Regions from separate parts of the Homo sapiens genome. Here region 2 is linked to region 1. Evidence: fine-mapped expression QTL. A gene starts in region 1. The other region holds a variant in brackets. All regions are shown on one strand. Distances are between the middles of the regions.

Evidence for each region. PIP is the estimated chance that this variant, and not a neighbour inherited with it, causes the effect. A credible set is the group of variants that fine-mapping cannot tell apart.
Region 2: its variant is the best candidate, but not a certain one, in a credible set for the expression of SLC27A6 in subcutaneous fat (GTEx, PIP 0.66).

The regions. Positions count from the first base shown.
Region 1 is chr5:128,962,879-128,968,265 of GRCh38, forward strand. SLC27A6 (solute carrier family 27 member 6) reads left to right here and starts at 2,610. Exons shown (of 10, transcript NM_001017372.3): 1 at 2,610-3,740. The coding sequence starts at 3,260.
Region 2 is chr5:128,991,092-128,996,478 of GRCh38, forward strand. All of the region lies in intron 4 of SLC27A6 (solute carrier family 27 member 6), which reads left to right. Among named protein-coding and RNA genes, the nearest start is that of SLC27A6, 28 kb to the left of the region's middle. The variant TG/T (reference allele first, on the strand shown) is at 2,774.

The sequences.
Region 1 (5,387 bases):
GTTTTCACTCAAACCTCCCATAATCCAAATGATGACTGCTATAGAATTCCATCAGAAGACTTATGAAGACAAGTGATTTGACAGCAAAGAGTCAGAATTCTTAGGTTACAGTGGCAAAATCCTGTAGGCTCCATGTCTGTCATATATTGCTATTTGTTCAGTCTTACTTTGATCTACTCACTAAACAATTCATCCTCTATAGAACTGAGGGTGCAAAGGTGGTTGGTAGTGGGTTAAAGAGGAAAGTCAAATCAGAAATGAAGAAGAGGTTGAAGAGACCACATGTAGATTAAAAATAAACTTTTTTGGGGCATTGATTTTCATTTAGTCACAATATTTTTATTTTCAAATAACATTAAAGAAAAACAAACAGTCTTTATGTTTTTTAAAGGAGAAGCAGAGAAATATTACACTATTCCTAGTCAAAAGTAATGTTAGCAGGAATGTCTAGACTATTTCTATGTGTTTATTTCTCTTTATTTTAGTTAAATGATAGATTTACTCACTTGCAACTAACTCTTGCTATATTTCTCCCATTTCAAAATTCTTAAACTATTGTAGCTAAAAATTGTATCTATTTTACTTAGCTGCCTTTGGTAGCATTTGAAAGTGAATGCAAAATTTCTGGACAAAATAGAAACAGGTACATGGGCTAATATAGGAATATACACAATACTGTTAACTGTCCCAAGATTTTTCATTGATTATGTCTTCCATGGTGAGATTTCAGGCATAAAATTGGTTTGGGTTAGTACAAAGTCTGGCCCAACATATGCTTACTTGTAGTTCTTCCTAATAAGTCAAACAAGCTCACATTTATGGTGCTGAATATATTCTAGATTCATTGTATCTGTAGTTGCTAAAAATTTAGTTCCATGCCTTAGGATGGTATTAGAATGTCCATGATAAGAAAAATAAGTGCAGCAAAATAAAAGAAATGCCACGCCTATCTTTCTGTATTATTTTTTCCACTGGAGAAGGACAGATTTTACTCATTAAAACTACAAAAGTCTGAGACCAACTGCTCCATATTCTTTTGTGTTCGTTAAATGTTGTTATTTGGAGGTGACTTAATTAGACTAAAGCTAGAAGAGAAAACAATAGAATGTCAAAGATGCTTTTCAAGTTGTAAACTAATGTTTTAAGTTATAAACTACTTGATACTATTTTCTTAATTAAAAAGATATTTCTGAATCGAAAAGATCAAAGCTTCTGAGTAAATTTAGAAAGCATTTTTTTGTCATTTACAGAAAAGGGCTTTAAGAGCCTATGTTCCTTTGGCTTTAAGAGCTCTTCACTGTGACTTCAAAGTAATCATTTTCAGATTAATAAACTGGAGCTCGTCTTTGGAATTATCAGTTTTTCTTTTATTACAGAATCTGAGGTTAGCCAGAATCCATCTGCAGAACATGAGGCAGAAGGGAGAAACACCTAACAAGGTGAGGCCTTCCTTAACTATTTTAACACAAGCAATTAACCATTTATACTCACTTAAAAGCAGACAGCTGGGATGATGGTGTCTGCTAAAAAAAAAAAGTGTAATGAAATGTTCTTTAGTTTTTTGATCTTTAGTAAAATTTCATCTTCGTATAAAATTTTATTAACCATTCCACTAACTTGTTACTTCTCCACTCCACCTCCCCACTCCCTTTAGAATCCTTAGTTTGAAGACATAATTCTTTAAATGATCTGTCTCAGGGAGGGGGGATCTTGTTACTTTTAAGGACTGCAAATAGCATTATAAACTTTGTTTTTATTTTTAAATACGAATATCGACTGAAGCTCTCAAATCAATCAATATTGTTGCCAAATTTTGTAAAACGCACTGTCTTAGCTCTCTAACGATAGAGTTCTAATATAAATGTAAAAACCAACCTATCAACATGTTTTCAAAAATACTTTTTGTAAAGAACAGTACAATTTTGTGGTGTCCAAATATTCCTTTCTTTCTTACAAAATATTATTGGATCTGTCCAGTTCATAAATATTCCTGCCCTCTCTTCCTCCCTCCCTGCCTCTCTCTCCCTGCAGTTTTTTTGATGTTTGTTCTTTTCTTTCCATTTTCTAGTTATTAATTGGTTCAATGGATGACCTTTGTGCGACACTGTTATACCTTATCAGCCTCGCCAGGGCCCCCGCGCCGCCCAATCCCAGCAACTCTGGTTCTCCTGTGACCCCAAGCCTTCCAGATCCCTGGGTTTCCCCCCACGGGACTGTCACATTCTTCCCCGCCGGAGACGCCAGTCGCGGGGCCTCCTCCCTGGGGTGTGAGCAGGTCGGCGCGCCACACTTCTCTAGGTGGCCGGACGCGCGCCCAGGGAGGAGCTGGCGGCGGGGCCCAGGCTGTTCCGGCTGCGGCACGCCAGGGGATGTGGTTAGCCCTGAGCCTGGAGGCCGAAGGTGGGCAGGCAACACTCCCACCATGTTTCGGAGGAGAATACACTAGGCTAGCCTAACGACACTCGGAGTGCGAGCTGCGGCTGGGGTAGGGGCACCCCTTTCCAGCGGGCGCGTGGGTCACCAAGGAGCAGTTCTCCGGGACCCGTTGCGTCAGAGGGACTGGGCGGGGCTGGGCGGGGCAGGACGGGGGCGGCGCTCAGGAACCCTGGAACCCGCTGGCCCTGAGGCCACGGACCGAGACGTGGTGCTGAGCCCCTGCGCGGTTTCTGGTGCGTAGAGACTGTAAATCGCTGCGCTTCTCAGTCATCATCATCCCAGCTTTTCCCGGCTCGAATTCAGCCTCCAACTCAAGCTCGCGGGAAAGACTACCTGAGAGGAGAAAAGCTTCTGTCCCTGGACCTTCTTCTGAGGGTGGTGAGGTTTGTTTAGGGTCGCAGAAGCAGGGAGGACTGACTCAGCCCTCACAGAGAAGAGGTCTGGAAAGTCCTGGGGAACTCGCAGGGCACGGGCCGCTGTCGCGGTTGGGAGGCGAGGGCGCAGCGCTGGGGTTGTAGATTCCAAGACCCCTGAGGGTGGCTGTGTTGGTTTCTCGCAGGAGTCGGAGGCTCCCTGCTTTCCAGCCGCCCAGTGACCCAAGCTTAATCTTCAGCACCACTTGGGGCGACCTTTTCGGTGCAAACCTACGATTCTGTTTCTCAGGATTCCTCCCCATCCCGCTTCGCCCCGGAAAAGCTGACAAGAACTTCAGGTGTAAGCCCTGAGTAGTGAGGATCTGCGGTCTCCGTGGAGAGCTGTGCCTGGAAGAGAAGGACGCTGGTGGGGGCTGAGATCAGAGCTGTCTTCTGGCCCAGTTGCCCCCATGCTTCTGTCATGGCTAACAGTTCTAGGGGCTGGAATGGTCGTCCTGCACTTCTTGCAGAAACTCCTGTTCCCTTACTTTTGGGATGACTTCTGGTTCGTGTTGAAGGTGGTGCTCATTATAATTCGGCTGAAGAAGTATGAAAAGAGAGGGGAGCTGGTGACTGTGCTGGATAAATTCTTGAGTCATGCCAAAAGACAACCTCGGAAACCTTTCATCATCTATGAGGGAGACATCTACACCTATCAGGATGTAGACAAAAGGAGCAGCAGAGTGGCCCATGTCTTCCTGAACCATTCCTCTCTGAAAAAGGGGGACACGGTGGCTCTGCTGATGAGCAATGAGCCGGACTTCGTTCACGTGTGGTTCGGCCTCGCCAAGCTGGGCTGCGTGGTGGCCTTTCTCAACACCAACATTCGCTCCAACTCCCTCCTGAATTGCATCCGCGCCTGTGGGCCCAGAGCCCTAGTGGTGGGCGCAGGTAGAGTATGGGGTGTGGTCTGCCTATACAGAATGGCAGCCCACCTGCTTTCATACCCTTTTTTTTTTCTTTAGGATAATTCGTAACTAATATTTTGGGTGAGTGAAGTGTGCATGTTAAGAGTACAAAATAGTTTTATGATTCTATGCTGGTTTAACAACTGTCTCCTCCCTTCAGGCACGTAGTTTCAGAAAACTTTTATGAAATCTCTGCTTCCTACCATTTTGAGACAGGGACAGTTTTACTGCTATTGGTTCCTTCAGTGAGTGCAAGAACACACAGAGAACTTGGTCACTTCTAAATTTTATCAGCTCTGACAAAATGGTGAATAGGAAAGTTATCTGACTTCATTGTGACACGTCTACCTACCTCTAATTGTACTTTATCAGGGATGACTACATTTGCAGAAGAGATATGTTTAAAGGAAGGTACCTGAATTCCTTTCTTCATGTCTGCTCTTATTTTATACTGTCTGCAAGCTAGGACTTGCCTAGCAAGGTTGCGCTCCCACCTGTGAGCCAGAACGTGGGCTCTTGGCAGACTCTAGGAGCCTTTCTGTTTCTTCTTCTTATCCTTCCATGCATCCTTTTCTTTTTTTGACTAAGTTCTACCCTTCCTCCTCCCCCTGCCTTGGAGTTAGGACATCTTAGGCTACACGTATTTTCACTGAACTGTAAAGAAAAGCCTGGGGTTTAGTGGCTAATTAGTAAAGAAGCTAGGAAGATGGGTTGCTTAATGAAATAGAAGTGAAATATGAAAAATGATACTTATTTGGTGTAATCTAAATGGTTTATGCAGAGTCTTCTTCAATGGGGAAGGAAGGTGCGGAAAGAGGAAGATCCATTGCAAGGACCATAATGAAAATATTTAAGTATTTTAGATTAATAGATACATACCAATACCTTGTATAAAGTTTTTAAACTCACAGAACAATATGGAAAAATATATTTATACCCTGGTGATCTCTAAGGTATAGAACTTTTCAAATAACCTTTATGATATAATATTTGTATATCAAACCAAAGTGAGTTAGGCAGTATATGGAAAATGGGCTAGCCCTTCAAGGCTATCACTGTTCCTAGTTCTTTTCAGTTCAACTTGTGGTCTGATAAAGTGGCAAATGTATACTTTTTCTTATTTATTATTATTTTTTATTATTATACTTTAAGTTCTAGAGTACATGTGCACAAAGTGCAGGTTTGTTATGTATGTATACATGTGCCATGTTAGTGTGCTGCACCCATTAACTCATCATTTACATTAGGTATTCCTCCTAATGCTATCCCTCCCCACTCCCCCCACCCCACGACAGGCCCTGGTGTGTGATGTTCCCCACCCTGTGTCCAAGTATTCTCATTTTTCAGTTCCCACCTATGAGTGAGAACATGTGGTGTTTGGTTTTCTGTCCTTGTGATAGTTTGCTCAGAATGATGGTTTCCAGCTTCATCCATGTCCCTACAAAGGACATGAACTCATCCTTTTTTATGGCTGCATGGTATTCCATGGTGCATATGTGCCTCATTTTCTTAATCAAGTCTATCATTGATGGACATTTGGGTTGGCTCCAAGTCTTTGCTATTGAGAAAAGTGCCGCAATAAACATACATGTGTGTGTGTCTTTATAGAGGCATGATTTAGAATCCTTTG
Region 2 (5,387 bases), 28 kb after region 1:
GCTCAAATGCCTGGGTTTATATCTGGATCTTTGTCCCTCCCCCTGTGCTCTCAGGTGATAGATGATTGACTATTTCTTTACCTCCTGCTTTTAGCCTAATTGGTATTTTAGTGAGCTCTCTTTATGACCTGATTGGCCGGGTGTGAGCTGAGTTACAAGCCCCATGTTTAAAGGTAGGTGCAGTCACCTTCCCCAGCTAGGCTTAGGAATTCTTAGTCGGCCTAGGAAATCCAGCTAGTCCTGTCTCTCACCTTCTTTCAGAACATAATTTAGCTGACTTACAAAGATGCGTGCAATACCCCAAGATAAAATAAGACAAGTGAAAGAAAATAAACAGAGAGCTATCCAAGAATGTACTAATGTGCTTTGTACTGTAGCAGGATAGGACTGACCCAAAGACTGTGTTTAGACTAAAATTAAAATTTCTATAAACATAACACGCATCAGATTATGAAATTAGATTCATGCTATGTTTACAGAAAGCAATTATTCTAAGGTTAAAATAATCTTTTAAAATGCTGTTCTTTAAAAAAATAACTACTGACCACTGACACTGATTATAATTTATTTTCTATTTTTTCTTTTGAATAAGTGATTATATTAGGATATCTTTTTGTTTTACTTTAAATTAAAAAAAAAAACCCACATTGCTTTGATTTGCACTTGTCTCCTTAACTGAAGAAGTCATTTCCACATTCGTTTGATCAACTGCCACCATCTGAAAAACAGATAAGCAGAGACAGTTGCAATAGCCTGAAGTTTATCTTTATTGGTTCATTTGTTTTTTTGCCCTCAGAAGTTATTTTCTTTTTCCTGCTTTCGTTTATCTCTCCAAATGCTTCTTCTTTAACTTTATGATTTTCTAAACATTCTTGAGACTATAAAGAAGTTACTTTCTTTAATCAAATTTATTTAATTCTTTATATTATTTTATTATTATAAATTATTTATCTTTTATTATCTGATTATTTTAAACATCAGATCCACATCAGCCCCTTCAAGAATGACAATAGAGTAGGATATTGCCCTACGTGGGGTGGGGCAACAGAACCTTGGCCTTTGAGACCCACCTTTCCTTGACTAGAGGATCTCTCAATAGAGTAGGATATTGCCCTACGTGGGGTGGGGCAACAGAACCTTGGCCTTTGAGACCCACCTTTCCTTGACTAGAGGATCTCTCACTTATCACCTCTGCCATCATCACATCTGCTTAAGGCATGAATGGTGTGCTGGGATATCTTCTCTTCTCTTTGGCTAAAATCTGGCCATGTAATTTTTCAATTAATTACCCAGAGCACAGCTGACACTAGGCTGGAGGCATTTAAATAAGACTTTTTCATTTTGAGCTTGGAGTTCACCAAGGAGAAACCTCCAGTCGAGCTTCTGACCCACCTCCCTGTGGCAGAAGCCATCCTTACTCATTTTTTGCCTGGAGTGCTTCAAATAACTATAGATTCCACAGATTCATAGCCAAGACAAAGAGTTCCAGATAAATGTTTTACATTTTTTAAATATTTTTCTCTTCAAGGAGACCTTGCCTCAGGTAAGGGAGGTAGTCTTAATCTAAAGAACCCCAATAATACACTTAGAATGCCACAACCTCACATATTTTATCTTCTAGTTTTCATTGTACTTTTTGGTAATGTGATATCTGGACTAGGTTAATTTAGGGAATTAATGCCCTCCAGTAAGATTAAGGTCACCTTCAGTTGAGATTTCATGACTTTAGTACAGAACACAGTAGGTGCTACCTAGTGAAGCTCATCTGCTTTCTAAACCATGTGCTCCACCATTCCTGTTTCCTCTCATCCTTTAATAGTGACATCAGTTTGTGTAATGTCATTGCTCAGTAAATATTTATTGAATGGTTGAATACATGAATTTACTTATTTCTAAAATTTACCAACTTAATGCTGCATTTAGTATCTTCATGCAATTGAGCTAATGTAGGTTTTCAGAAGTGAATGTAAATAGCCAAAGTATGTGGATACTTTTGCGATTTATAGAAAATATTTCTAAATTGCTGTTCAACATGGTTGAAGTGATTTAGAAGCTCATGCACATTGTAGGAGTATGCCTGTTGCACAGTGTCTGTCAGTACTGGGTGTTATTAAAAATAGTGGTTTTCCAGTTGTGCTTCTTGGAAAATTAGAAGCTCTTTTAAGCTCCCTCAAAAGTCCTTGAAACATGGTGAGTAAGAGTAAAAGCAGGCCAATTTCCAAGGCCCACCCTTTCAAATATCATGAATTAAACCCAATTTCCTGAGCTCCTCAATAATGCTTTGTTTGAACAAAGGATGCCTCAGTGGTTTTTAATTAGAAAAAGTAAATTCGATTATTTACTTTTGTTTATAATTTTATAGACTAGAAACAAACATATATTAATGTGCTCTGTTAAGATTACTGGCAAGGTGGGACAGTTTTCCAGCTGTATTTCCCTTTAAAAATGTCTCTTTTGTGTCTTGTACTCATTTATTTGTCTGGTACATAATGTTTTACCTTATCCAGTTGAACTCCCACTTCATATAATAAAGGTATTAATAGTTTTTCATATTGATTACAAATCTTTTCTCAGTGTTTTTCTTTAAATTTTTTAAAGAAATGAAATATTCTTTTTAACTCTCTGAATCTGTATTGCACTGATTTGGAGGAAATATTATAGCTTCGGAGAATTTGAGAGAACTGAGAATTGAAAACAGAATGCCTGATTGCTTTTTAATTAATTTAATTTTTAGGGGTGGGCATGGTGGTTCACGCCTGTAATCCCAGCACTT[TG/T]GGAGGCCAAGGTGGGCAGATCACTTGAGGTCAGGAGTTTGAGGTCAGCCTGATCAATATGGGGAAACCATCTCTACTAAAAATACAAAATTATGTTTTTGTAAAATACAAAAATACAACATGGGGAAACGATCTGTACTAAAAATACAAAAATTAGCCGGGCGTGGTGGCGAGCACCTGTAATCCCAGCTACTCGGGAGGCTGAGGCAGGAGAATTGCTTAACCCCGTGAGGTGGAGGTTGTGTGAGCCGAGATTGTGCCACTGCACTCCAGCCTGGGTGACAGAGCAAGACTCTGTCTCAAAAAAAAAATTAATTTAATTTTTAATTTTAATTTTTAACTAAATCTCTTCAAAGAAAAAATGATGTTTATCAAATAATCTGCAAATGCTTACCTGAATGCAAACTGAGGAGGAAAGAAGGAAATAAATACAGCTTTACCCAAAGGGAAACTTAATAATTTTTTTTTAAGCAGAGAAGCATTGTACTACCTAATACCCTTTGTTGAACTCACACAAAATGAGTACAAGCTGTTCTTGGCATTACAAATTAGGAAAAGGAGAAAGTCATTCTGTTATGACATCTTTTCCCTTCAAGGAGATCTTACATTTTTGCTGTCCAATATTCCTTTCAATGACATTCCCTTGAAATGAAGGGGCAGTTTCTGCTGCCCAGCCAGTACATCAGTGGATTCAGGTAGAGCCAGAGAATGAACACGTGACATGGTCCAGGTCCTTACCTTCAAAGAATTAAAATTGAATGTCTCATAAGCCATGGTTTGAAGCCCCACAGACAGTTATTTAAAAGAAAGCAAAACCATGTGGTTTTAAAATAGATTCAGATTTGTTGACAATCTCAGGGTAAGTAGCATATTCCAAAGGAAATTTACCTGCAGGCAGAAGTCAGAATGTGAGTTGAATGTTTATGTGTAGTTGCACAAAGACTCCCTAGGGTTGGCTTTCTATGGCCAGAAGCATTTATCCTTTCCCATCTCTCAAACATGCACCCTATTCCCCACTGCTTCTCTTTTTCAAAACTCCAGTTACAAAAGTTCTTTTGGCATAAACGTTAGATGTACTTCTTTAAAACTGCTGGCAGCAGCATTGTTTTCAGAAAAAGAGACTGACTCCTGTTAGTCATGGTGAGATGAAGTTGTTCTTCTCTTCCCCTGAGACTAGGAAAGCAGCTCTCCCTCACTTTTAATCTTCCAAGTTTTCTATGTCACTAAAGCACCATCATACAATCTGATTGGGTCTAGTTCTATATTTTCTTAATACTAATGTTGTCTTTAATATTGATTGGTGAGGAATATGTTGGAACTCTAGACATCAGTGATCCTCTAGGGGAGTCTTGCTGCAGAGTTTGTCTTATATAAGCAATTCCACCTAACACAGTCAACAGTTAGCCATATCTAGGGATATATCTAGGGATAGACCATATATGTAACATATTCATTTCCTCATTCATTCATTCATTCAAGTAATATTGTAGGATTAGATATACAGGACACACAGGACAAATCAGACTGCTTCTCTCTTAGAATTTATACTCTCTTTGATGAGGGGGAGAGAAAATAAACCCAGCAAACACAGATGAAAAGTAATTACAGACAATGACAAAGGTTATGAAGAAACAAAACAGGGTGCGGTGATGGAGAATGATGGACTGTGGGAGTAGGACATTGCTAATTAGATTTGGTGGTCAGGGATGGCTTCACAGAAATAGTAATCTATGAGCCGAGGACCTGATATGACAAGTGGGATCCAGGCACAGAAAAGCTGGGAGGTTGCCGTCATGACAGAAGAAACTCAAAAGGAAGAGCCCCACAGAAAACACCACCTGAATGTTTGAAGAGAAGGAGGGTATGCTGGGCCATCCATTGACTAGATCTTGTAGGGCTTGAATCTTTGTAATCTTGGAGGAGAAACTTGGATTTTATTCCCATCAGAGTAGTTGAAAAAAGATGAAGGAAAAACTGGAAAAAATTAGACCACTTTGGGATCTATCTTGAAGGAAAGCTAACAAGACTTGTTAGATCAAGGATAGGAAGTGAAGGAATGGGTAGAATCAAGGATAAGTCCCAGGTTTTTGGTTCAAACATGTAGGCAAATTATGAACTATTTGCTGAGATGAAGAAAACTGAGATTCGAGGAATTAAAATTAATTTTTTTGATCTGTTAAGTTTGATATATTAGGCATCCAGATGAATAAGCTAAATAGGCAATTGGATGTAGGAATCTGAAGCTCGAATAGTACAAAAGACAGGACCTAATTAACAAAGCAAGGACCTATAGTGTGATACATGTATGATGCTTATTTTTCAAGCTACTATTTGTAGTTTGACATTTAGGCTATATAATTTGTCTATATATGTCAATGTAGAACACCCACATTTTGACATTCTCAAGGCATAGTCTATACTTATTAGGAATGCATTTTCTAAAAATTATATCCCCTTTCCTTATTTTGTTTTCTTAAAAGCTAAGAAATTCCCTGGGAGCCAGAAAACATCCTTATGATTCTGAATACTTTTGGTAAAGAATATTGAAATTTGACAAAATGTCTTACACTTGACTCCCATTATAAAAAGAGAGGTGTTTTAAAGTATCAGTGT